Linked DNA regions of Homo sapiens: all the other regions are linked to region 3. Evidence: fine-mapped expression QTL. A gene starts in region 3. Each other region holds a variant in brackets. All regions are shown on one strand. Distances are from middle to middle. Region 1 has its middle 14 kb from the start of MRGPRF. Region 2 holds the start of MIR3164 (microRNA 3164). Region 3 holds the start of TPCN2 (two pore segment channel 2).

Evidence for each region. PIP is the estimated chance that this variant, and not a neighbour inherited with it, causes the effect.
Region 1: its variant is fine-mapped to the expression of TPCN2 in whole blood (TOPMed, PIP above 0.99).
Region 2: its variant is fine-mapped to the expression of TPCN2 in whole blood (INTERVAL, PIP 0.96).

What each region holds. Positions count from the first base shown.
Region 1 is chr11:69,023,321-69,031,499 of GRCh38, forward strand. No RefSeq gene overlaps it. Among named protein-coding and RNA genes, the nearest start is that of MRGPRF, 14 kb to the left of the region's middle. The variant A/G (reference allele first, on the strand shown) is at 4,786.
Region 2 is chr11:69,075,958-69,084,117 of GRCh38, forward strand. It overlaps TPCN2 (two pore segment channel 2), which reads left to right. Exons shown (of 25, transcript NM_139075.4): 14 at 2,525-2,644; 15 at 2,777-2,836; 16 at 2,935-3,063; 17 at 3,877-3,926; 18 at 5,443-5,542; 19 at 7,988-8,059. It overlaps MIR3164 (microRNA 3164), which reads left to right and starts at 7,219; the gene lies at 7,219-7,301. RefSeq lists an enhancer at 3,808-5,007. The variant G/T (reference allele first, on the strand shown) is at 4,625.
Region 3 is chr11:69,044,523-69,052,701 of GRCh38, forward strand. TPCN2 (two pore segment channel 2) reads left to right here and starts at 4,410. Exons shown (of 25, transcript NM_139075.4): 1 at 4,410-4,584. The coding sequence starts at 4,476. RefSeq lists enhancers at 1-490, 6,814-7,388 and silencers at 4,148-4,367, 4,488-4,657, 4,738-4,837.

The sequences.
Region 1 (8,179 bases), 21 kb before region 3:
GTTTTTCAAAAGGAGAATAGTTATCTTCAGAAGAGGACATGTCTTTGCTCTAAAATCCCAGTGGTCTCTTCTGTGACACCTGTTGGAGCCTGCCAGAGGCCTCATACAGAATCCCTACTTGCCCCGGACACCTCAAGATCCACTGGATCTGTTGGGTCTGTTGGGCTCAATAGCATGACAGCTTGAAAGCAGCCTGGATGTATTGCAGAGGCTTCTCTCATTCTGGGTCCTGAAACTGGCAGCAGCCTTGCAGGTTACCAGTGAGTCGGTCGGAAGAGCACACCTGAATGAGGTGTAAGCTGCACCAAAACCCAGAGCCCCACCAAAGGTCATGCCACTTTCTTAACAGGAGGGGGTGCCTGGTGCAGCAACTGGTCTTCCTCTTCAAGGGGCTATCTCAACACGCCCCCCACCATTGTACCCCTAGAAACTTCACTGAGATGTTAGGCGTTTTGTGGGGTTCATTTCCCACTGGCTGACATGCCTGTGTCTTGCCAAGATGGCTCGGGTATTTACTGTTTCTTCTCAGGTCCAACGCACACATGCTATCACTACAGTGGGTCGGTTCGTCAGCCTGTGGAATGGTGAGGTAATGGAAGTACTCCAGAACTAGCTGTCACAGAGGGCTGGAGAGTTGGTAGACCTGAGGTAAGGGGGTAAAGGTGTTTTCCTGTCACTGCCCAACGGAACACACTTCTCATTTGTTTCTATTTTTTTCTTTTTTTTTTTTTGAGACAGAGTCTTGCCCTATCGCCCAGGCTGGAGTGCAGTGGTACAACGATGGCTCATTGCAACCTCTGCCTCCCAGGTTCAAGCAATTCTTGTGCCTCAGCCTCCTGAGTAGCTGGGACTACAGGCATGCACCATCATGCCTGGCTAATTTTTGTATTTTTAGTGGAGACGGGGTTGTGGTATGTTGGCCAGGCTGGTCTTGAACTCCTGACCTCAAGTGATCCTCCGCCTAGGCCTCCCAAAGTGCTGGGATTAGAGGCATGAGCCACCGCGCCTGGCCTGTTTCTGTTAAGTAATGAGTATAGAGAAAAATAATTGGTATTGAGTGTTGGGAGCTGTGTTGATTTGCTCCATAAAAACATTACATCCAGAAAAGCACATGAAGTTGCAGTTACTGCTTGACTAAGTTCACAATATGACTTTTGGTTTTCCATGTTGGGAGAGAGAGGCAGTGCTGGTGGCATCCATGTGGCCCTTTCTACCATAGTAGCCCTCACTCTACCAGTCAAGGAGCCACCCCATGGCTTCTACACCACTGAGTGCCTCTTCCACTGTACTTTCCAGAATGAGAAAATAACCACAGGGTGGGTTTCAGGGCCTGCGGAGCCTCCCATGAGACGGATCAGAACAAACCCCATTCATTGCTTGACCTCCAAAAGCCCCTGCTTTGACTGTGGGACCGCAGTGGCTGTGTGCATCAGGCACAACGAGTACCGCTAAGACTCAGTTCCCTGTGACCGCCCTCCCCTCTGGGTATTTGCCTTTCCATATTCACTCTTCCCAGATAAATGGCACAGGTCCCTTTGGGGACAGCAAGGAAAATGTGTGTACATTGTAAATGTTTGGTGGCAGAGCAGCGTCCTTCCTCAGTGAGACCCAGCCTCACTTTATTCAAGGAGCTCTGGGTAAAATCTGGGAACTGGGTCAGGGCGCCGAGCCTCCACCACAGTGACTCGAGTCAGCTGTCCGTTCACAGAGCTCCTTAATCAGGTCAAGTAAGATCTTAGTAGGTTGCCAAGATGTTAGGCTGAATGATGTTAAATTGTAGTTTTTCTTGTTGAAAATGGTTAAACAGCCGGGCACGGTAGCTCACACCTGTAATCCCAGCACTTTGGGAGGCCAAGGCGGGTGGATCACTAGGTCAGGAGTTTGAGACCACCCTGGCCAATATGGTGAAACCCCATCTCTACTAAAAATACAAAAATTAGCTTGGTGTGGTGGCGCACACACGTGATCCCAGCTACTCGGGAGACTGAGGCAGGAGAATCGCTTGAACCCGGGAGGCAGAGGTTGCAGCAATGAGCCGAGATCGTGCCACTGCACTTCAGCCTGGGTGATAGAGCAAGATTCCATCTCAAAAAAAAAAAAACAACAAAAAACAAAAAAACAAAAAAACAAAAAAAAAAAGAAAAGAAAGAAAATGGTTGAACATTGGCAATTTTACATGGTAAAACCAACTGTTTCAGTCCTAGGTTCTTCATGGTGAGTTAACCACTGCCAGGGAACTCTGGGGTGGGGGTGGGGGGTCAAGCCATTCTGATTATTAATCCAGTTCTCTGTGATGTAACGACACCCTCCCTGTCTGCGTGGTGAACTGTCCCTTGGCCCCGCCACTTTGGGATTCCACCATCCTCACTGAATTCAGGAAGCCCATTTCAATGGCAGCATCTCCCACTGTCACTCCTAGCCTGCAGAGAGCAGCCACTACAAACTCTTCAAACATGCTGATGTTCCTGACCCAGTGTCTTTCTCAATGCTTGGGTGAGGGGCCCTCCTGAGGGCCTAGTTAGGGGATGAAAGAGTAGATTGCGGCTGGGCGCAGTGGCTCACGCCTGTAATCCCAGCACTTTGGGAGGCCGAGGCAGGTGGATCACCTGAGGTCAGGAGTTCAAGAGCAGCCTGACCAATATGGTGAAACCCTGTCTCTACTAAAAATTTAAAAAATTAGCCGGACGTGGTGGCAGGAGCCTGTAGTCCCAGCTACTTGGGAGGCTGAGACAGGAGAATTGCTTGAACCCAGGAGGTGGAGGTTGCAGTGGGTCGAGATTGCGCCACTGCACACCAGCCTGGGTGACAGGGCTAGACTCCATCTCAAAAAAAAAAAAAAAAAAAAACAACAGAGTAGACTGTACATGATACATTCACTCCAGTATTCCTCTCCTTAACTCTGGGTTTTTTTTTTTCTGTTTTGGTTTTGTTTGTTTGTTTGTTTTTCGAGACAGGGTCTCTCTCTGTCATCCAGGCTGGAGTGCAGTGGTGTGATCACAGCTCACTGCAGCCTCATCCTCCTGGGCTCAGGCCTCCTGAGTAGCTGGGACCACAGGTGCGCACCACCACACCTGGCTAATTTGTTCCATTTTTTTGTAGAGATGAGGCTTCACCTTGTTGCCCAGGCTGGTCTCAAACTCCTGTGCTCAAGTGATCCATCTGTCTTGGCCTCCCAAGTGCTGGGATTCTGGGTGTGAGCCACTGTGCTTGGCCCTACTCTTTGGACACCTTTCTCTACTGCAGTGGCTCTCAATCAGGGGAGATTTTGCCCCCCATGGGGACACTTAGCAATGTCCAGAGGCATCTTTGGTTGTTATGGCTGGGAGGGGTACGTTTCTAGCATTGAGTGGGCAAGGGATACTGCTAAGGTCCCCACAACCTCCCCCAACAGCAAAGAGCCATCTGGCCTCAAATATCAATAGTGCTGAAGTAGAAAAACTCTGCTCCACGGAATTCCAAAGAAGTCCTGGAATCCCATCTTCATTTAAAATGGGTCACCACTGGGCTGGGTGCAGTGGCTCATGCCTGTAATCCTAGCACTTTGGGAATGGAGGTGGGTGGATCACTTGAGCTCAGAAGTTTGAGAACAGCCTGGCCAACATAGTGAAACCTCATCTCTACTAAAAATACAAAAATTAGCCAGGCGTGGTGGCAGGCACCTGTAGTCCCAGCTACTTGGGAGGCTGAGGCAGAAGAATTGCTGGAACCCGGGAGATGGAGGTTGCAGTGAGCTGAGATTGTGCCACTGCACTCCAACCTGGGTGACAGAGCAAGACTCCATCTCAAAAAAAAAAACAAAAAACAAAACAAGGCCTGGCATGGTGGCTCATGCCTGTAATCCCAGCACTTGGGAGGCCGAGGCAGGTGGATCACTTGAGGTCAGGAGGTCGAGACCAGCCTGGCCAACTGGGTGAAGCCCTGCCTCTACTGAAAATACAAAAATTAGCTGGGCATGGTGGCGGGTGCCTGTAATTCTAGCTACTCAGGAGGCTGAGGCAGGAGAATCGCTTGAACCCAGGAGTAAGAGGTTGCAGTGAGCAGAGATCGTGCCATTGCACTCCAGCCTGGGCAACAAGAGTGAAACTCTGTCTCAAATAAATAAATAAATAAAAACATGGGTCACCACTGCTCCAGGTTTCAGTTGATGGAATGGGCCAACTCTGAGAGCCACTCCCAGGTGCTGAGTGGACACGTGGAGCTCAGAATCTCTGGTGAGTGCACCATATCAAAATAATTAAGCCTGACCCGGCATTACTTTCTTCCCCCACCCCGCCGGTCTGACACCCTTAGGGTTTGTTCCCCTACAGATTTCCTAGGTTTCTGCCAGTATGAACCGGAAATAGCTTGCAATTCTTTTGTTGTGTATAGTACATCTTCCTGGGTCAGATTTTGTGGCCACATTCCTGGAGCTCACCGGGATTTCGATCTAGAAGCTGGAGGTGGTAGGGGCTCTTGAGGAAGAGTCTACCCTAGGATTAGAATCTTCCCAAATGGAATCCGTTCCACCATTCAGGGATCCACTCTTTCCCCGTCAGTGCCCTGACTTTCACAGAAGAGAAACTTGCGGCCCTGAGTTCAAGTGTAGTAGTTGAACTTGATTCTATTTTGCCACCCAGGGGATCAGAGTTTGGATTTGTTTATTTTTTTGATCTCTCAACTCTGTGGCTACAAGAGATATGGACTTCTTTTCAAGCACCAGTGGAGGGTTTCTGGTACTTTAGGTCTTGAACTGGATATTTAAAACCCTGAGCTCCTATTTTTTTCCCCCAGCAAATTCTCCGGTGC[A/G]ATAGGAGGAGGCCACCAACTTCACAGGATGCAAACTCTGTATTTCACCATCGCGTTCTGTTGCAACAGCTACCGTTGCCTGTTTGCCTTCTGCAGGCACTTGACCCCATGTGATTGCTGATGAGGACTGCAGCAAGCTTCCCACACCTTCCCCAGCCCCACCCTCCAGCTCCTCCTGCATTTATGGAAGCACTGATTTCTATAGTAAGCCCCTTTTTCTCTGGAATGCATGGAGTGGCCCTGCTTTCCTCTCCAAACTCAGATGGATATGGTTTTTAATTTTTTAGTTTAAAAAAATTTCTTTTTGGCCAGGCACGGTGGCTCACGCCTGTAATCCCAGCACTTTGGGAGGCCGAGGCGGGCAGATCACAAGGTCAGGAGATCGAGACCATCCTGGCTAATACAGTGAAACCCCATCTCTACTAAAAATACAAAAAATTAGCCGGGCGCAGTGGCGGGCACCTGTAGTCCCAGCTACTCGGGAGGCTGAGGCAGGAGAATGGCGTGAACCTGGGAGGCGGAGATTGCAGCGAGCCCAGATAGCACCACTGCAGTCCGGCCTGGGTGAAAGAGCAAGACTCCATCTCAAGAAAAAAAAAAAAAAAATTCTTTTTGAGACAGGATCTCACTCTGTCACCCAGGCTGGAGTGCAGTGCAGTGGCATGATCACGGCTCTCTGCAGCCTCAACCTCTGGGCTCAAGCGATCCTCCCATCTCAGCCTCCCGAGTAGCTGGGACCACAGGCACGCACAACACCCGGCTAATTTGTTGTGTTTTTTGTAGAGATAGGTTTTTGCAGTGTTGGCCAGGTTGGGTCACAAACTCCTGGTTTCAAGTGATCTGCCTGCTTCACCCTTTCAAAGTGCTGGGATTACAGGGATGAGCTACTGTGCCTGGCCAAAAAAATATTTTTTTAGAGATAGGGCCTCACTCTGTTGCCCAGGCTGACTGGAGTGGCGTGATTGTAGCTCATTGCAGCCTCCAACTCCTGGGCTCAGATGATCCTCCCACCTCAGCCTCCCGAGTAGCTGGGACTACAGGCAGGCCTATGCTACCACAATTGGCTATTTTTATGATTTCTTTTTTTTTTTTTTTTCTGGTAGAGACAGGGTCTCGCTATGTTGCCCAGGTTGGTCTTGAGCTCCTGGCCTTAAGCAACCCTCCTCCCTCTGTTTCCTAAAGTGCTGGGATTACAGGTGTGAGCCACTGCACCCAGCCTACTATACGTCTTTTGAAAACCTCTCTAGGCTGGGTGAGGTGGCTCATGCCTGTAATCCCAGCACTTTGGGAGGCTGAGATGGGCAGATCACAAGGTCAAGAGATCGAGACCATCCTGGTCAACATGGTGAAAGCCAGCCTCTACTAAAAATACAAAAATTAGCCAGGCGTGGTGGCACATGCCTGTAATCCCAGCTACTCAGGAGGCTGAGGCAGGAGAATTGCTTGAACCTGGGAGGCAGAGATTGCAGTGAGCAGAGATCGTGCCGAGATCGCGCCATTGCACTCCAGCCTGGAGACAGAGCGAGACTCCATCTCAAAGAAAAAAAAAAAAGAAAACCCGTCTCATTGTTAAACTCTTACCAGGAACCTTATAGAGAAGGGGATTCAAGGACTTGCAGCCTTAGAGGGATGTGCTGGCGGGGCCACGTTACTCTTTCTTGGTTTAGTGTAGATTTTGTTGTTGAGAACCTTTGTGTTTTTATTCTTGTGGCAACCCTCCCCCAATACCTTCATATGATACCTTTAATCCCCTCTTTTTTGGCAGGGGGGATTGTCGATTGGTTTTCTTTTGTTGATTGGTGTTCTTTACTCAGTTTAAAAATTTTTTATTTTATTTTATTATTTCAGAAAAATTTTCTTGAATTATAATTATTATTTGTTCTGCTTCATTGCTTTGGTTTTCTTCTGGGATTCCTATTGTATGTATCTTGAATCTTATTTGCCTATTTTCTATAGCTATAATTTTCTCTAGACTTTTTTTTTTTTTGGCTTCAACATTTCTTTTTGGTTTAAAATTTTTTCTGCTTTCTTTCTTTCTTTCTTCTTTCTTCCCCCTTCCCTCCCTTTCTTCCTCCCTCCCTCCTTTCTTTTTTTCTCTCTCTCTTTCTTCCCCTCCCTCCCTCCCTCTCGTCCTTCCTTCCTTCCTTCCTTCTTTCCTTCCTTCCCTTCTTTCTAGATAAGAGTCTTGTTTTGCGCAGGTTGGACTTGAACTCCTGGGCTCAAGCGATCCTCCCTCCTCAGTCCCCGAGTAGTTGTGACCGCAGACATGAGCCTCAACAGCCTGCTTTTCCTAGTCTGTTTCTCTTAAGGCTTTATTTGTGGTACTCATTTGCCCTTCTACTCCTTTTAGTTTCAGTCTTCATTTCTTAATTCCTTTTCTCTTTTAAACTCCTTTCTGATTTCATCATCTCTTTACAACTTTTCCTTTTCACCGATTGCTTCATTTCTGAGTTTTTCTAGTTTTGATTTATGCTATTTTCCATAACTTCTATTAGTTTCTTAATATCTAAAATCACAGCTTGTTGTGCGATGTTAAAGTGACTGCTTCTGTCTGTTTTGAGGACATGTCCTTTGGGCACACCATCGTTGGCTGGGTAGGGCTGTCATTCTGCTCCTTTGTCTCTCTTTTTTATTTTTATTTTTGAGATGGAGTTTCGCTCTTTTTGCCCAAGCTGGAGTGCAATGGCGAGATCTTGGCTCACCGCAACCTCCACCTCCCGGGCTCAAGCAATTCTCCTGCCTCAGCCTCCTGAATAGCTGGGATTACAGGCATGTGCCACCACGCCTGGCTAATTTTTGTATTTTTAGTAAAGACAGGGTATCACCATGTTGGTCAGGCTGGTCTCAAGCTTCCGACCTCAGGTGATCTGCCTGCCTCAGCCTCCCAAAGTGCTGGGATTACAGGCATGAGCCACCGTGCCTGGCCTGTCTCTTTTTGTATAGCATCTCTGTATGGGATTGGACAACACTTCCTTCCTGTTGATCATTTCCCCCCCACAGTGAGATGCATCTTTCTGAATATCTCTGGGGGAAAGGTGGGCCAGGATAGCTCCCTTGAGAGCGCCCTCTGCTCTTATTAAGTTGGTGCAAAACTAAAAAACTGCAATTACTTTTGCACCAACCTAATAGTTCTGAGAAGAGATGGTAAACACAGCCCCTTGCTTTCTGCAACCTGCTGCCTCTGTTCTCTTCTCTCCCTTTTACTGGGACCTGTTTTCCTTTGTGCTTCTGCCCTGGTCAATTTGGATTCTACCCCCAGCAATTTCTTCTCGGGGCAGGGCTTTGTCTTGGAAGCGAGTTGCATTTTGTGAATTTCAAGAGTCCATGGCCCAGATGGCTCCGGCACCGTCTGCCTTACTGCTTTCTCCTTGCAGGCGCCTGCAAGTGGAAGGAA
Region 2 (8,160 bases), 31 kb after region 3:
ACACCTTCTCCTTGTAACAATTTAGACGTAATAGATAATGCTGAAATCTCTCTTGGCCAAGGTGTCCGTCTGGGTTAAACAGAAAGTGTCATGTACGGCAGTGGCAACTACGATAAAAGAGTAACTGCAAGATGTAAGGAAACCATGTGGTGTCCTTGGGCTGAGGGGAGTGCATGAGGAAGGATGGACCTGGAAGGGGACCCTCCGAAGCTGGGGTTCAGACCTCTTGAGAGCAGGTGTGGTTTTGCCCACAGGAATGCAGAGACGTTCACTGGCTTCCCCGGGCTGCGGTTGGTTTGTGGTCACTGGGTAAGCAGGAGGCGACCCTCCTGGGTGCAGCAGGCCCAGGCTGTGAGCAGGCAGTGGCGTGGTCCTGCCGAGGGAATTCGGTGCCAGTGTGGGCAGGTGGCCTTTGGGCACTGGTTTCCACATTGAGGACTGTGGGAAGCTGGGAAATTTTCAGGAGGTCAGGCTGTGGCTGTAGGTCCCCTGGGGACTATGTGTCTCGGACAGAGCGTGTCCAGATGTGCTTAACACCACACTCCGATCCACCCCGTAGCATCCGGAAACCGCAGGGGAGGCCTGCCCTCCTGCTCTGTCCCTCCACCTGCCCTCCTGCTCTGTCCCTCCACCTGCCCTCCTGCCGTGTCCCTCCACCTGCCCTCCTGCGGTGTCCCTCCACCTGCCCTCCTGCCGTGTCCCTCCACCTGCCCTCCTGCCGTGTCCCTCCACCTGCCCTCCTGCCGTGTCCCTCCACCTGCCCTCCTGCTGTGTCCCTCCACCTGCCCTCCTGCTGTGTCCCTCCACCTGCCCTCCTGCCGTGTCCCTCCACCTGCCCTCCTGCCATGTCCCTCCACCTGCCCTCCTGCCCTCGTGCCATGTCCCTCCACTTGCCCTCCTGCCCTCATGCCATGTCCCTCCACTTGCCCTCCTGCCCTCCTGCCATGTCCCTCCACTTGCCCTCCTGCCATGCCCCTCCACCTGCCCTCCTGCTGTGTCCCTCCACCTGCCCTCCTGCCATGTCCCTCCACCTGCCCTCCTGCCACGTCCCTCCACCTGCCCTCCTGCCCTCCTGCCATGTCCCTCCACCTGCCCTCGTGCCATGTCCCTCCACTTGCCCTCCTGCCCTCCTGCCATGTCCCTCCACTTGCCCTCCTGCCCTCCTGCCATGTCCCTCCACCTGCCCTCCTGCCGTGTCCCTCCACCTGCCCTCCTGCCGTGTCCCTTCACCTGCCCTCCTGCCATGTCCCTCCACCTGCCCTCCTGCCATGTCCCTCCACCTGCCCTCCTGCCACGTCCCTCCACCTGCCCTCCTGCCCTCCTGCCATGTCCCTCCACTTGCCCTCCTGCCGTGTCCCTCCACCTGCCCTCCTGCTGTGTCCCTTCACCTGCCCTCCTGCCATGTCCCTCCACCTGCCCTCCTGCCCTCCTGCTGTGTCCCTCCAGCCCCTCCGCTAAGAAAGCCTCAACTCCCGTTCACTGTGGATGAGACGCTGAAAGGGACCCTGCCCGTTGTGGCAGAGTGCGTATCGAGGAGGATGTCGGGAGCCGAGAGGAAGTTCGCTGATCATTGGCACCACCAGTTTGGGTCTCACTGGAGAATAGCCACTCTATTCAACTGGATATTTTGGTGTTTTCCTTCCAGACTTTTCCCTGTGTAATTTCAGGCATTTGTAGTTACCTGGGGAAACAGTTGCTTTGTTCTTCTTTGACGTATACATGAAGCATTGCGATTTTCACTCTGCAGCCTGCCTGTTCACGCAGCCATGTCTTCTTACCCTCTCCATTTTCATATGGACTTTCTGGGGGGATGAGCTGTAGCCACGTGTCACATGTGGCTGTGGAGTACTTGACACGTGGCTGTTGCCACCGAAGAACTGAGTGTTGAATTTTGTTGCATTGAAATTTTCATGAAATAGCCGCCGGTGGTCAGTGGCTCCCGTGTGGGACAGCGGGTGCAGGTCTCCTTGCTGAGAAATGTTTAGGCCATTCCCCTTGTTGACCTCTTGCACACACAGACGTGTCTCAAGGAGGCTGCTGAGCGTGGGAAGTGCTGGGTCTCACAAGGGTCCTGACAGTGGCAGCGTCTGCCCGCCTGCCCCTCATTGCCTCCTGCTGCTGCTGGCCACAGTACAGGAGTTGGTTCTGTGCTGAGTTTCTGTAGCTATGAGTATATCACTTACCTGTGTTTTTTCACACAGCTTTTTTTTTTTTTATATATATCAGGGTGACACTTTGCGTATGTTTCAGGTGACTCTAATATCACAACATGGTTTACTTACAGCCTCAGTGGATGTTTCAGTTGCTTCTATTTCTCTTTGGGTGTTACAAAGACCACTGAGATGAACACCTTTGTGTATAAAGCGATTTCTGTGTCTGGGATTATTTCCTGTGGCTGGATAGATAGGACGGGAGATGGGGTAGGAAAAAATCAAATCCCAGAATAAGAGGGTGTGAGCATTTTTGGGCTGCAACAGCCACGGCTGCTGGCCTGTGCTTCTGAGCACGTGTGTTCCTTGCCCAGCACCCGCCGAGGCCCGAGTACCAGTCTCCGTTTCTGCAGAGCGCCCAGTTCCTCTTCGGCCACTACTACTTTGACTACCTGGGGAACCTCATCGCCCTGGCAAACCTGGTGTCCATTTGCGTGAGTGTGGATTTGCCCCAGAGCTGGCACGGAAGTGCCGGTTCCCGCCCACCTTGCAGGGGAGCCTGCCCCTCCTGCCTCGCCCAGCGCTGTGCTGGGCCAGCCGGCGAGCCCTCTGTTCTGGCGTTGCAGGTGTTCCTGGTGCTGGATGCAGATGTGCTGCCTGCTGAGCGTGATGACTTCATCCTGGGGGTAAGTTCTGAGCTGTCCACCTGTCAGGGCCAGGGTGAGGCTGGGCAGTGCTGGCAGCCCTGGGGCCCAATGCTGGGTGCCTCTTCTGCCCCTTTCAGATTCTCAACTGCGTCTTCATTGTGTACTACCTGTTGGAGATGCTGCTCAAGGTCTTTGCCCTGGGCCTGCGAGGGTACCTGTCCTACCCCAGCAACGTGTTTGACGGGCTCCTCACCGTTGTCCTGCTGGTAAAGTAGGCGCATCCGAGGCCGGCCTCTACTGGGCGGGTGGGTGAGCGCCACCTGGGCTCTGTGCTGGCCCATCTCAGGCCTCCCCTGAGGACTAGAGGCTGTAGGAAGGTGGGCTTCTGCTCTCAGTGGTGAGGGCTGGCTTCCCTGCTGGCCGAGTTGCTCAGTGGGCAGCCGGTGAGGTCTTTAGGAGGCTGGGTTTCTACTGCATCCGAGTGTCATGGGGGGCAGGCTGCCCCTCCCGACCCCCAGGGGAAGCCCTGAAGGACTTGTAGCCCTGGCCAGCGACTCCAGCCCGGGGAACAGCCTCTTAAACGTCACTGATAGACGGTGTGACCTCAGCATGGGTGGAGCGAGGGGCCAGGGGGCTCTCAGGCACCAGGGTGTTCTTGGGAAATGCTTACACTTCCTTTCCCCAGACCCAGTGGGAGTGAGGGCATGCCACACTTGGTGTGTGTGTCACAAGCAGCCACATGAGAGTGACGTTTGCTGTAGCCAGCAGGCCCCTCGGCACATAGGTGAAGAGAAATTTGAAAAGGGCCCTGCAGTCTGTCCTTGACTCAGTATCTTCTCTGCCACCTCTGCCACCCCAATCTGTGCAGTCCCCCGATTCCTGAGGCCAGGGTGTCTTTCCAGCTGAAAGAAGTCCTGACATCTGGAACCAACCCGTGGGGTCCAGGACCAAGCTCTGATTTCTCCCCAAAAGCCCCTTTTGGGGAGAATGTGTTAGAGATGAGCTTTATAATAATTCCTTTAAGGGCCGCCCAGATTAGTGTTGCTGTAGCGAAGCCTTCTTTTCTTTTGTAATTAAAGGTTTTGGAGATCTCAACTCTGGCTGTGTACCGATTGCCACACCCAGGCTGGTATGTGACTGGGCAGAACCGAGGGCGGCTACAGCAAACAGCACCACCACCCAGCGCCCCTGGGAGGGTCTCAGTGGTGTCCAGGGGGCTGGGTCTGCTCTGACTCTAGGGCAGACCCCGTGATGGTGGAATGGGTGGGCCGATCCCACAGCAGAGGCTGTGTCGGGGCAGGGCCCTGCCGTCGCTCTGGGGGTCCTCTCTCCAGAAGCTGGCACCCCGCAGGCTGTGGAGGGAAGCCGTTGTTCCCCCTTGGAGATGCCCTCCCGGGCGGCAGTGGGCTCCCCCTCCCAGCACACATGCTGGGGGCTGGCAGCAGAGATGCCCCTGGCTCAGGTCTCAGGGGACCTGTGACCACTGGGATTCGGCTGGGCCCCTCTGCTGGCGGGAAGGTCCTTGGGAGAGCCCCTGCCTCACAGTGTGACCTTGAGTCATCGCCTCCCACTCTGGACATCACTTTAGCCTCCTTAAAATAGTGGAGCTAGGGGCCCGGGGCTCACTGAACTCTGAGGCTGTGTGCTGATTCACCACTGCCCGGGGTTCTGGCCATGAAGAGACAACCTGGGCAGGGACCCTGGAGCCTCGTGGCACCACAGGGCTGTCAGCCAGGCTGCTCTGCCCTGAGAGCGTGGCTCTGGTGTGCCCGTGATGAGACAGGAAGGGTGGGGCACGGGGCCCAGCATGCCAGCCTCGGCCCTGTG[G/T]TTAGGCCGGGCTCCTTGGGTCTCTGTGTGCTGTGTCATCCACCCCACTGCCTAGGGAGCAGCTGGGAGTCGCTTGGTGGGGGTGGGGACGGTGGACAGCAAGAGCCTTGCTATTCCGTCAGCTCCCTAGGAAGCCCCCCAGAACTTACCTCAGGAAGGCAGGCAGTGCCACTGTGCTGTGCCGTGGGGCTGGCATTGCCTTGTCTTTCATGTGCACTGAGCATGCCCGCTGCACTTTGTTCTGAGTCATTACCTTGGGGGGCTGACACTGTGGGTGAGAATGGGTTTGAGTTTCAACAGAAATGAAAGCATGGAAAGACCATGAGGGATGCCAAGCGGGGCTTGGGTCAGGGATGGGGTCAGGGTCAGGGTCATGGGACAGGAGGTGGGCGATGGGGGCAGGAACCAGGGGATGGGGCTGGCGCAGGAGACCGGGGCAGGAGACATGGGCTCACGCAGTTCTGCTGGGGCCTGAGCTGGAGCAAGTCTCAGTGTCTGGAACCTCCATGCCCTCCCGTGTGGACAGAGGGTCTGTGTAGAAGGAGGGCTGCAGCCTTCCCGCAAGGGCTGGCTGGGAAGGTGTTGGGGGGATGGGGGTCGCTCCGGGGCTGCAGGTGGAAGCGGAGCAGTGAGTAGCCCAGGCCCCGCCCTCTCGCCACCCTGCAGAGGCTTTTCTGCTCGGTGTTGGCTGTGGGGTGCACTCCCGTCATGCCCTGTTGCCCTCCCTGCGCCTCCGTCCAGGAACCCGCGCGTTTCCTTGTCTCCTCCCTGTGGGGCTCCTGGGCTCCTCCCAACCCGCCTCCCGTGTCTCTCCCCAGGAGGCCGGAGATGGTGGGCCTGCTGTCGCTGTGGGACATGACCCGCATGCTGAACATGCTCATCGTGTTCCGCTTCCTGCGTATCATCCCCAGCATGAAGGTGTGTGCCGGCCCCACCCCCACTCGCCCCACCCTCCTGGGTCATGCTGCTGCGTTGCTCCAGGGTGGGTGAGCCTGGGGCAGGAAGGGCCCGAGGACTGTGCCCGTCACCCTGGGCTCCCTGGCTGCACCCTCAGCTCTCTGCCGTGCTCTTGTGATGCTGGGGAAGGGTCATTAGAAGCAGGAGAGCCCAGCCCTGCATTTCTGGGTTGGGAGAGGAAGGCGGGCAAGGGTGTGGCGGGTGCAATGCTTTGGCCAGTGGCAGGAGCTCCTTGGGGCTGGAGCCCTGGACACCAGTGCTCCCCCAGGTCTCTGAGGTTCCCAGAAAGGCCTTTGCCATGGCTCCCAGGGTGCTATTAATGAGGGGCAGTGGTATCCCTGGCCAGGGAGCTTGTTTCCAGGATCCTCTAATGCGGGCGCAGGTGGCTCATGACCATCTCTGAGGGCTGGTTTCTCTTAATGCACCGGTTAGGAGCAATGGGCACCTTAAAGGGGCAGGCAGGCAGAGGTCGGGGGTCTGGGCCTTGCTGCTCCTGGCATCATGTCCTAAGACCCATGTTCTGAGTGTCCAGGTCCCTCCTCTGTCCCCGTTCATCCTTCCTCTGAGCTGTGCACCTGTCCCACCTGACAGTATGTCCCACTTGAAGGCAGCTCAGGGGTCCTGAGCCTTCCTACGGGGCTGCTGTGCTGGGACCTTCATACGCACACACACGCGCACACGTGTTCACACATAATTACAGCCATACAAGCACAATCATACATATATACAATACAGCCAAGCACACGTGATCTCACACACAACCACACATGTGACCATGCACATGCATATACACACACAATCACAGGCACACATGATCATACACAGTCACACATATACAATCATGTTTGGATACAATACACATCATCATGCACATACACACGTACATTAATACGCACGCCCGCATCACCGTATGCACAGATAATCACATGCAAATATCCATGTGAACTCATGTCCGTGTAAGACGCATGATCGTGTGTGCACACATCGCATGCAGATATCCATGTGAACTCGTGCCCGGGTAAGACGCATGATCGTGTGTGCACACATCGCATGCAGATATCCATGTGAACTCGTGCCCGGGTAAGACGCATGATCGTGTGTGCACACATCGCGTGCAGATATCCATGTGAACTCGTGCCCGTGTAAGACGCATGATCGTGTGTGCACACATCGCGTGCAGATATCCATGTGAACTCGTGCCCGTGTAAGACGCATGATCGTGTGTGCACACATCGCGTGCAGATATCCATGTGAACTCGTGCCCGTGTAAGACGCATGATCGTGTGTGCACACATCACGTGCAGATATCCATGTGAACTCGTGCCCGGATAAGACGCATGATCGTGTGTGCACACATCGCGTGCAGATATCCACGTGAACTCGTGCCCGTGTAAGATGCATGATCGTGTGTGCACACATCGCATGCAGATATCCTTGTGAACTCGTGCCCGTGTAAGACGCATGATCGTGTGTGCACACATCGCATGCAGATATCCTTGTGAACTCGTGCCCGTGTAAGACACATGATCGTGTGTGCACACATCGCATGCAGATATCCATGTGAACTTGTGCCCGTGTAAGATGCATGATCGTGTGTGCACACATCCACAGTAAGGCCTCAGTGCTATCCACAGGTTCTTGGAAACTGTGACTTTAAGGGAAATGGCGCACAGCAGACCCTGCAATCATGCCGTTTTGCTTGAAGTCGCAGTTTCCCAGGACCTCTCACGTGAGTATATACATGCTCACGATGACACGCAACGTGTGCACACGTACATGCTGACTGGTCTCCACTGTGGCGTTCAGCTGTGTTGTCTAGTTTGGATTCCTCAGGTGGGTTGATGGGGCTGATGTGAAGGCCTTTCTCCCGGCTAGGCTGTGATGAGGAGGAGCGGCTCTTTGGAGCCGGGGCCTCCCTGCTGGTTCTCAGAGGCCCCTTCTCAGACTCAGTTCCTGCAGGTGCTCCTGCCACCTCTAGCTCTGCATTTCTTTGGCGTCTCCAGGCCACAGAGTAGCTGACCCACCTGCAGTGGGTTGGGAGGCAGAGAAGGGCCTCCCACAGGAATTTGAAGTCCGTGCTTGAATGAGGCTGGGGTGGAGGTGTTGGGATGCGGGAGTGGGTGAGTGAGTGCGTGCGGGTGGCGATGCAAGCGTGTGCGAATGCGTGTGGGTAGATGTAGGTGTTGGGGTGCGAGGGTGTGTATGGGTGGACGTGGGGGCCTGACAGGCTGTGTGGGTGTGTAGAGGCGTGTGGGGGTGGCTGTGGGTCCAGGTGTGTGTGTGTGGGTTGGTGGTCATTGGCCTGCCCCATCTTGCCTTTCTGTCAGGGTCAGCGTGGTGGGCCGGGATGGTGTCCCCTCAGTGGGGCCAGGAGGAGTAAGGGCTGTGCTCTCTTCCTGTCCTCAGCTGATGGCCGTGGTGGCCAGTACCGTCCTGGGCCTGGTGCAGAACATGCGTGCGTTTGGCGGGATCCTGGTGGTGAGTCCCAGGCTGCTGCTGGTGGCGGGTTATGCACTGGAGTGGGAGGCTGGGAGGCTGGCGGAAGGCAGTGCCGGGCCGGCTCACTGCTCTGTCGGTAG
Region 3 (8,179 bases):
GTTGTGTACCCAAACATCAAGGGAATTCTTTAGCGGCAATAAAGACAATTTATTGGGATGTGCCGTTTTTGCAGACAGCTGCGTGCATCTATTATTTCCTTTCTTCGAAATAAAAATATCTTATACTTTTTTTCATGTTTTAAAATGTATGCTCCTTGTCACAACAAAACAAAACAAAAAACAAAACAAAAACAAAACTCAAACCTGTGGCCACATCCTGAGATCTCTCTCGACCCCACTCTGTTCCCCAGAGCTGTGTCATCTTTTAAACATTTGCTGACTTAGGAGTTCAGTGATTTCATTGTTACTTTAATTTGCATCCCTTTGTAGCCTAATGAGGTGGAGCTTTATTTTAGGCATTCCTCACTGATATTTCCTCTTTCTTGGGAACTTCTGGTTCAAGTCTTTTCCCATATGTGGAATTTAAGGCTGAATGTATGGGATTTTAAAGGCTCTGCAGGAAGCAGAATTTTGGCACCCATGATCTTCACTCCTGGTGTCCTGCCTGTGGTTGTGCTAGATGAGATGGCAAAAAGGATTTTGTAGATGCGATTGAAGTCACGAATGAGCTGATCTTAAATTAGGGAGATCATCCTAGATTATCTGATGAGCCCAGTGTAATTGTTACCAGAAAGAGGTCCTGATCTAGATCCCAAGAGAGGGTTCTTGGATCTCCCACAAGAAAGAACTCAGGGCAAGTCCACAGTGCAATGCAAAAACAAGTTTATTAAGAAAGTAAAGTAGGCTGGGTGCGGTGGCTCGTTCCTGTAATCCCAGCACTTTGGGAGGCCTAGGCGGGTGGATCACCTGAGGTCAGGAGTTCGAGACCAGCCTGGCCAACATGGTCAAACCCCGTCTCTACTAAAAACACAAAAATTAACTGGGCGTGGTGGCGTGTGCATGTAATTCCAGCTACTCAGGAGGCTGAGGCAGGAGAATCCCTTGAACCTGGGAGGCGGAGGTTGCAGTGAGCTGAGGTCGTGCCATTGCACTCCAGCCTGGCGACAGAGCGAGACTCTGTCTCAAAAAAAAAAAAAAGAAAAAAAAAAGAAAAGAAAGTAAAGTGGTGACAGAACAGCTGCTCCATAGACAGAGTTAGGACGTTCCGGAAAGTAAGGAGGAACGTGTCCACCCTAGGTATAATACTCGTTTATATATAGGATGAAAAAAGATCAAAGATCATGAGGACACGTGCTCTGCCACTGGGGTTTGTGATAAAGAATTTTCCTAATTACTGTATTTTGCAAGAATTGATATTATTACCTTTAAAGCAAAATTAGGGATGCTTCTGTTCTGAAGATATCAGGATATCAGCACACTCCCAAGTCTAGGTCTGCTTAGTAAACATTATCAATCTGTTCCCTTAACTGTGAACGCCTCACTTTCTGGGAATGCAGCCTGATAAAGCCCCAGCCTCATTTTTCCTAGTCCTCACTCAAGATGGAGTCGCAGCAAGTCCCAGCCTCATTTTCCCTAGTCCTCACTCAAGATGGAGTCGCAGCAAGTCCCAGCCTCATTTTTCCTAGTCCTCACTCAAGATGGAGTCGCAGCAAGTCCCAGCCTCATTTTTCCTAGTCCTAACTCAAGATGGAGTCGCTCTGGTTCGAATGCCTCAGACATAATCATATGAGCCCTTGGCTCACTGCAACCTCTGTCTCCCAGGTTCAAGCGATTCTCCTGTCTCAGCCTCCTGAGTAGCTGGGATTACAGGCGCCTGCCACCATGCCTGGCTAATTTTTGTATTTTTAGTAGAGACGGCGTTTCACCATGTTGGTCAAGCTGGTCTCGAACTCCTGACCTCAGGTGATCCGCCTGCCTTGGTCTCCCAAAGTGCTGGGATTACAGGCATGAGCCACTGTACCTGGCCTGAAAGCAGAGTCTTGACGAATTATTTGTACACTCATGTTCACAGCAGCATTATTCACAATAGTCAAAAGGTGGAAGCAACCCAGTGCCCATCCATGGATGACTGGATAAGCAAAATGTCATGGATACATACAGTGGAGTATTATTCAGCTTTAAAAAGGAAGGAAATTTGGACACATGCTACATGGATGAACCTTGAGGATTTTAGGCTAAATGACATAAGCCAGTCACAAAAGAACAAATACTGCAGGATTCCACTTAAATGAGGAACCTAGAGTCGCCAAAATCTTAGGGATAGAAAGGAGAATGGTGGTTTCCAGGGGCTGAGGGAATGAGGAGTCAGTGCTTAATGGGTCCAGAATTTCAGTTTTGCAAGATAAAAAGAGTTCTGGAGTTGGAGGTGATAGTTGTATAGCATCATTAATATATTTAATATCAATGAGCTGTACACTTCAATATAGTTATGTGAACTAAAAATATCTGAGACAGGTCTCGATCTATTTAGTAAGTTTATTTTGCCAAGGTTAAGGAGTGCCTGGGAGGCAGGTCTATGCCTTCCTTCAAGGATGATTTGTAGGACTTCAATATTTAAAGGGGAAACTGGCCAGGTGCTGTGGCGGAGGTTGCTGAGTGACCTGAGATCGCACCACTGCACTCTAGCCTGGGCAACGAAGCAAGACTCTGTCTCAAAAAAAAAAAAAAAAAAAAAAAAGGGAAAGGGTGGATATTGGGAAAGAGGGAGAAATTTTAAAAATATGTGGAGAGATAAGAGACAAAGGTTGCATTCTTGTGAGTCTTTGATCAGACTTTCACTGAAATACACAATTTACAGGTTGCGGGGGTAGAGGAATAGTCACTTATGCCTTAGTCTGGCTCGGTGAATCTGCACTTTTATACCAGAGGAAGCAATCAGGTGAGCAGAGGGATGACTTAGAGTTCCATCCTTTGTTTGGAACCTGTGAAGATCAGTTGTCAATGTACATTGTTAGGGTAAAATTCAACAAAACTGTTTTAGGGTAAAGATCTTGGGTGCCCACGAAAAATTTCCTAGCGGGCAAATTGTGAGGGAGGTATGTAGCTTTTTAAATCTTCGTAGCTATTTTATTAAAGAAGAAAAGGCGAGGCAGTTTGCCCAACGCAGTTCCCAGCTTGACTTTTCCCTTTGGCTTAGTGATTTTGGAGTCCTGAGATTTATTTTCCTTTCACAGTTATGATGGTAAATTTTATATTTATTTTAAACCCTCCCCCCTCCCCAAAAGAGGGGGAAAAAGTAAAGAGGTATGGCAGAAGGGGAAGTCACAGAGATTGGAAGCGTCTTGCAGCACCTTTTTTTTTGAGATGGAGTCTCGCTCTGTTGCCAGGCTGGAGTGCAGTGGCGCAATCTCAGCTCACTGCAATTTCCGCCTCCCGGGTTCAAGCGATTCCCCTGCCTCAGCCTCCGAGTAGCTGGGACTATAGACACGTGCCACCACGTCTGGCTAACTTTTTGTATTTCAGTAGAGACGGGGCTTCACCATGTTGGCCAGGATGGTCTCGATCTCCTGACCTCGTGATCCACCTGCCTCGGTCTCCCAAAGGGCTGGGATTACAGGCGTCTTGCTGCATCTCGAAGCGTCTTCAGCGTGCTCTTGCTTGCTGGCTCTGATGATGGAGGTGTTCAAGCCATCGTGGAAGGAATGCAGTGGCCTCTAGGAGTGAGAATGACACCAGCCAACATCCAGCAAGAAGACGTGGACTTCAGTCCTAGGCCCATGGAGACAATTCTGTTAACATCCTGGATGAGCCTGGAAGTGGGCTTTCCCCAGAGTCTGCAGATAAGAGCCCACGGCAGCTGACATTTTGACTCTAGCCTCGTGAGGCCCTGAGACAGGAGGTTTCCTGCCCCGCAGGACTGAAAGATGATGAATGGGAGTTATTTTATATTTTCAGATTGTGGTAATTAGTCACTGTAGCAATAGAAAACGAATACAAGGTCTTTATGCATTAATGTTGAAAACACTTTTTATATACGTTGTAAATATTTTTTAAGTGTGTCATATGTTTTTAAACTTTTCCCTTAATGATATTGAATCCTCCTAATTTCACCATCAGAGGGTAAACTCCAGTTCCATTCTGGGGGGAGTCCTTTGCAGTCACCCCGTGTACTCAATACTCACATGCATCAGAATCACCCCGAATGCTTGTTAAAACACAGATTCCTGGGTCCTCCCCGCAGAGTTGCTGATTTAGTAGGTTTAAGGGCCCAAGAATTTGCATTTCTAAAATGTTTCCAGGTGATGCTGAAGCTTCTGGCCGGAAAGACATCCTTTGAGAACATATTTCCTCCCCAGCCCTCGGCCCTTAAGCCCCAGAACGCTGCCCCGCCCTGGGTGGAACGAAGCTGAGCTCCACCCTAGAGGGGCGGGGCCCTTTAGCTCCGCCCCACTCAGGAGAACCCCACCCCTCCCTCCCCGTTCTCATTGGCTGGGACTGCAGGGATCCCCTGCGCCACAGTGCCGTGCGCGCGTCAGCAAAAACGCCAGGGACGGGGTCTCCGCGCCTGCGCAGTGAAGCTGGGCGCCTTCGGGGCTTGAGCTTCTGAGGGTCGGGTCCAGCGCGTGGGCTGCTGGATGGCGGAACCCCAGGCGGAGTCGGAGCCCCTGCTGGGCGGGGCCCGCGGCGGTGGCGGCGACTGGCCGGCGGGGCTGACCACTTACCGCAGCATCCAAGTCGGCCCTGGTGAGCCGCCCGGACCTGGGGAGGGGACTGGCCCGGGAGACCAGGGTCGCGCGTGGGGGTCCCGCTGTCCCAGCACCCCGCTTTCTGCCGGGCGCGCCCCCACCAGGTTCGAGTCCGAGCGGGGCCCGGGCCGCGCCGGGTGCCAGGCGAGCCGGTGTTCTGAGGGCGAGTGGGCTGCGTCCTGCGGACCCGGACCGGGGTCAGGGCAGAGCTGGGGTCTCTTCCGTGTCGCGTCCTGATCCCGACCAGCTGGGCGAAGAGGCCCTCGCCCAGCCTTGGGCAGCCCCGAGGGAACCGGCCACCTGCGGCAGGCACCCTCCGTGTGCCCGGGCGGGCCCAGACCCCATACTTCCCGACTGTCGCCGTAATGAGGGTCGCCTAATTGACTCAGAGAAGGCAGCACTTTGATTTTTCCCGTTTCTTCTGGAAAAAGCAGAGGCTCACAGAGAGGCGTTACCCTACCCAAGGTCACACACCCAGTAAGTGGCCGAGGTGGGATTCGAACCAGTTGGGAGCTAGGAGTCCTTTCTTTGTAGGGTGCCTTTCCCCGTCCCACTTCCCGTGGGGCTGGGGCGGGCCCCCTAGACGGGGGCGGCTTCCTCTCCTTGCCCTCTGCCACCCCAGAGTCCCCTCTGCACTCCCTCCTGCCCTTCCCGTTTTTTGTCCTGGTCTGAAGATTGCTGAATCCGCCCCCCGAGGGTGGGGTGCGTCCGCCCCTCGCTGACACCAGGGGAATGAGATTCTGGATTAAGAGGTGGAAGGACCTTAGCTTCACTTCACAGATGAGGAAACTGAGGCCCAGAGAGGCCCTGAGACCTGCCCAAGGTCACAGCCCTCTGTTCTGGTGCGGCTGCTGCTCGAACCACTCTGAGAATTCACACCTGGCTCCTTCCCTCTCTGGCCTCTCTTTCCTTCTTTCCTCCTCTGTCTGGAAGGAACTGGGTTGGAATCCTGGTGCCCACCCACTGGTCTGTGGCATGTGCCCATCCATGGAGTAATGAGGGGCCAAGGAGGGGACCCTGACGAGAGATGAAAAACCAGAGGCCAAGGTGGCCACCCTGTCTGCTCACCTCAGAAGCTGCCTCCAGGAAGTTCTTCAGGTGCTTCCTGGGACCAGTCAGGAAGGAGATCTGCAGGGAGCAGCTCTGGCAGGCCCCTTGATGAGACGCCCAGCATATGGCACCGTTCAGGGAACACAGACTTTGTGTCTAGGGGTCTGGGCGCCTTTCTGGGGCTGCACTGGCTGTGTGACCTTGGCAGGTTGCTTAACCTTTCTGTTTCTTTTTTGAGATGGAGTATCACTCTGTCACCCAGGCTGGAGTGCAGTGGCGTGATCTCGGCTCACTGCAGCCTCTACCTCTGCTGGGTTGAAGCGATTCTCCCGCCTCAGCCTCCCAAGTAGCTGGGACTGCAGGCGCCCGCCACCACACTTGGCTAATTTTTGTATTTTTAGTAGAGATGGGGTTTCACTGTGTTGGCCAGGGTGGTCTCAAACTCCTGACCTCGGGTGATCTGCCTGCCTCGGCCTCCCAAAGTGGTGGGATTACAGGCGTGAGCCACTGTGCCTGGCCATGCTTCACCTTTCCGAATCTCAGTAAAAGGGAGATAATACTAAGGACTGCCTGGCGGGCATTGTGAGGATTCAGAGAGAATCCAGAGTTTGTCCTCAGCACAGGGCCCGGCGGGCTGGTGTGGGGGCCAGTGGCCGTCCTGGGTAAGCTCTGTGATCATTGCAGGTCCTCCCTGGCAGGTGAGACCCGCTCTGCTGGGCAGTGTGGCTGACAAGAGGAGGCTCTCGGGGAGCGCTCTTTGTCCCTATGCTGTGGCCTCAGCCAGGGCTTCTGAGAACGTGGACAGGACGCTCTGTGTTCTGAATCCCCTTGGCCAGGGTCCCCAGCAAGGACTGGCAGACTATGGAGCCATGGAGACTCCGAAAGGCTCATTCAGTCTCTGTGCTGAGGCCTGTGCCAGGCTTTGAAATGAAGGCCCTGTGCTCTGGTTTGCAAGTCCTGTGGTTGGTCTCTTGCCAACGGGTTGTGGTGAGGGCTGCTGCTGTGGGTGCCCCAAGGACCCCAGTGGACCCTGCTGTTGGGTCGTTTTGACTTGGCCCCACCTGATGGGGCCGGGGTCAAAGGTTGAGAACAGTTGTTTTCTCTTGTTGCTGGGTCAGAAAAATCACACTTTTACTGGTTATCAAACAAGTCAGAGGACAAGGGATTGCGATGCTGTAGAGGCTTTCAGAGTAACTGAATGCTTATGAAGGGCTCACTTAGCAAAGTACTCTGGCTATAGTAAGTCATTCAGTCTGTACTTAGCTCCTATTGGGTGGGGGTCCATGAGGACCTGGAGCACCTAGAGGTTAAGGGACTTGCCCAGGGTCACAGAGGATGATGGTCAGGACCCTACACAGGTTGTGCAGCCTGGAGCCTGGAGCAACAGGGGAGCGGGAGCTCAGACCTGGATGTTGCGGGGCAGAGGCTTGGATTAGGAAGCCGTGTCGAGGCCTGGTGTGCCGGATGCAGCATCTCAGCCCCTGCTGTCCTCTGTGCCTTGCAGAACCCTTCAGCCCCAGTGGGTGATGGTGTGTGGAAAGGTGATTGTCCCCCAGGGTGATGAGCTCAGGGCGGGGCGAGCTGTCCCAAGGGAGTCCCTGGACTCACAAATTGGGGGATGGTGCTCCTGGCAGAAGCAGCAGCCTGAGTAAAGGGTTGGAGGCTTTGGAGAGCATGGCCTTGGCAGAGCCCAGTTCGGAATGAGTGGCACTGAGGGTTGAAAGGCAGGAGAGAGGCGGGCCGGCAAATGTGGGAACCTGCAGTGCCAGACCAGGGTGGAGTGTGGGCCTGGAATAGTGGGGGCCCAGGGGAAGCTGCGATGTGCTTCTGAGTGTTTGGAACGAGATCCTTGGGCTGTTGCAGGGTGAAACGGAGGATGGCCAGACCCAGAATTTTACAAACCAGCAACCAAAAAGCCAGGCGAAAGGGAACCACGAGTGCTGGATGGTTCCAGGGGTGCCCACCACTGTTGGCCTGGGATGGCTGGCCTGGGTGGATGTGAGTACTTTCCGTGGTCCTGGGGCTGGAGTGAGGCCCGGAACTCGGCCGCTTGTCTCTTGTCTAAGAAGCTTGTATCACTAGATCTCTCCTGGTAGAGATTTTGTCTTCTCCCAGGGAATCTGGTAAGGTGGGGCCTCTCAGATCACCGGCCCCCCAGGCTCCCCTCAGGGCTGTTCATTTATTCATGGGATATATCAGCTTTGAGTCCTGTGTGCTTGACTTCTGGGCTCTGCAGATACAGCAGGGAACAAAACAGTGTGGCTTCTGTTCATAGCGATCCCAGGATGTGCTCAGGGGACATAAACAGTAGCCACTTTCAGAGCTTCCCTGGGGAGACATTCGGGTGTCCTCAGGGTGGGTCTCGTGGCTGTGCATGTGGGCACCAAAGCCACAGGGAGGGAAGGCTCTTGCTCCCGGCAGTGCAGCAGGGCCGGGCAGAGTGAGGGTGGGGTCCGGTCTCCTGCCTCTGTCTGGGGCCCCTCACACCTCTAATCCGTCCAGGGCCCAGCTGCCTATACCTCATGCCCCCAAGCAGGAGCCCC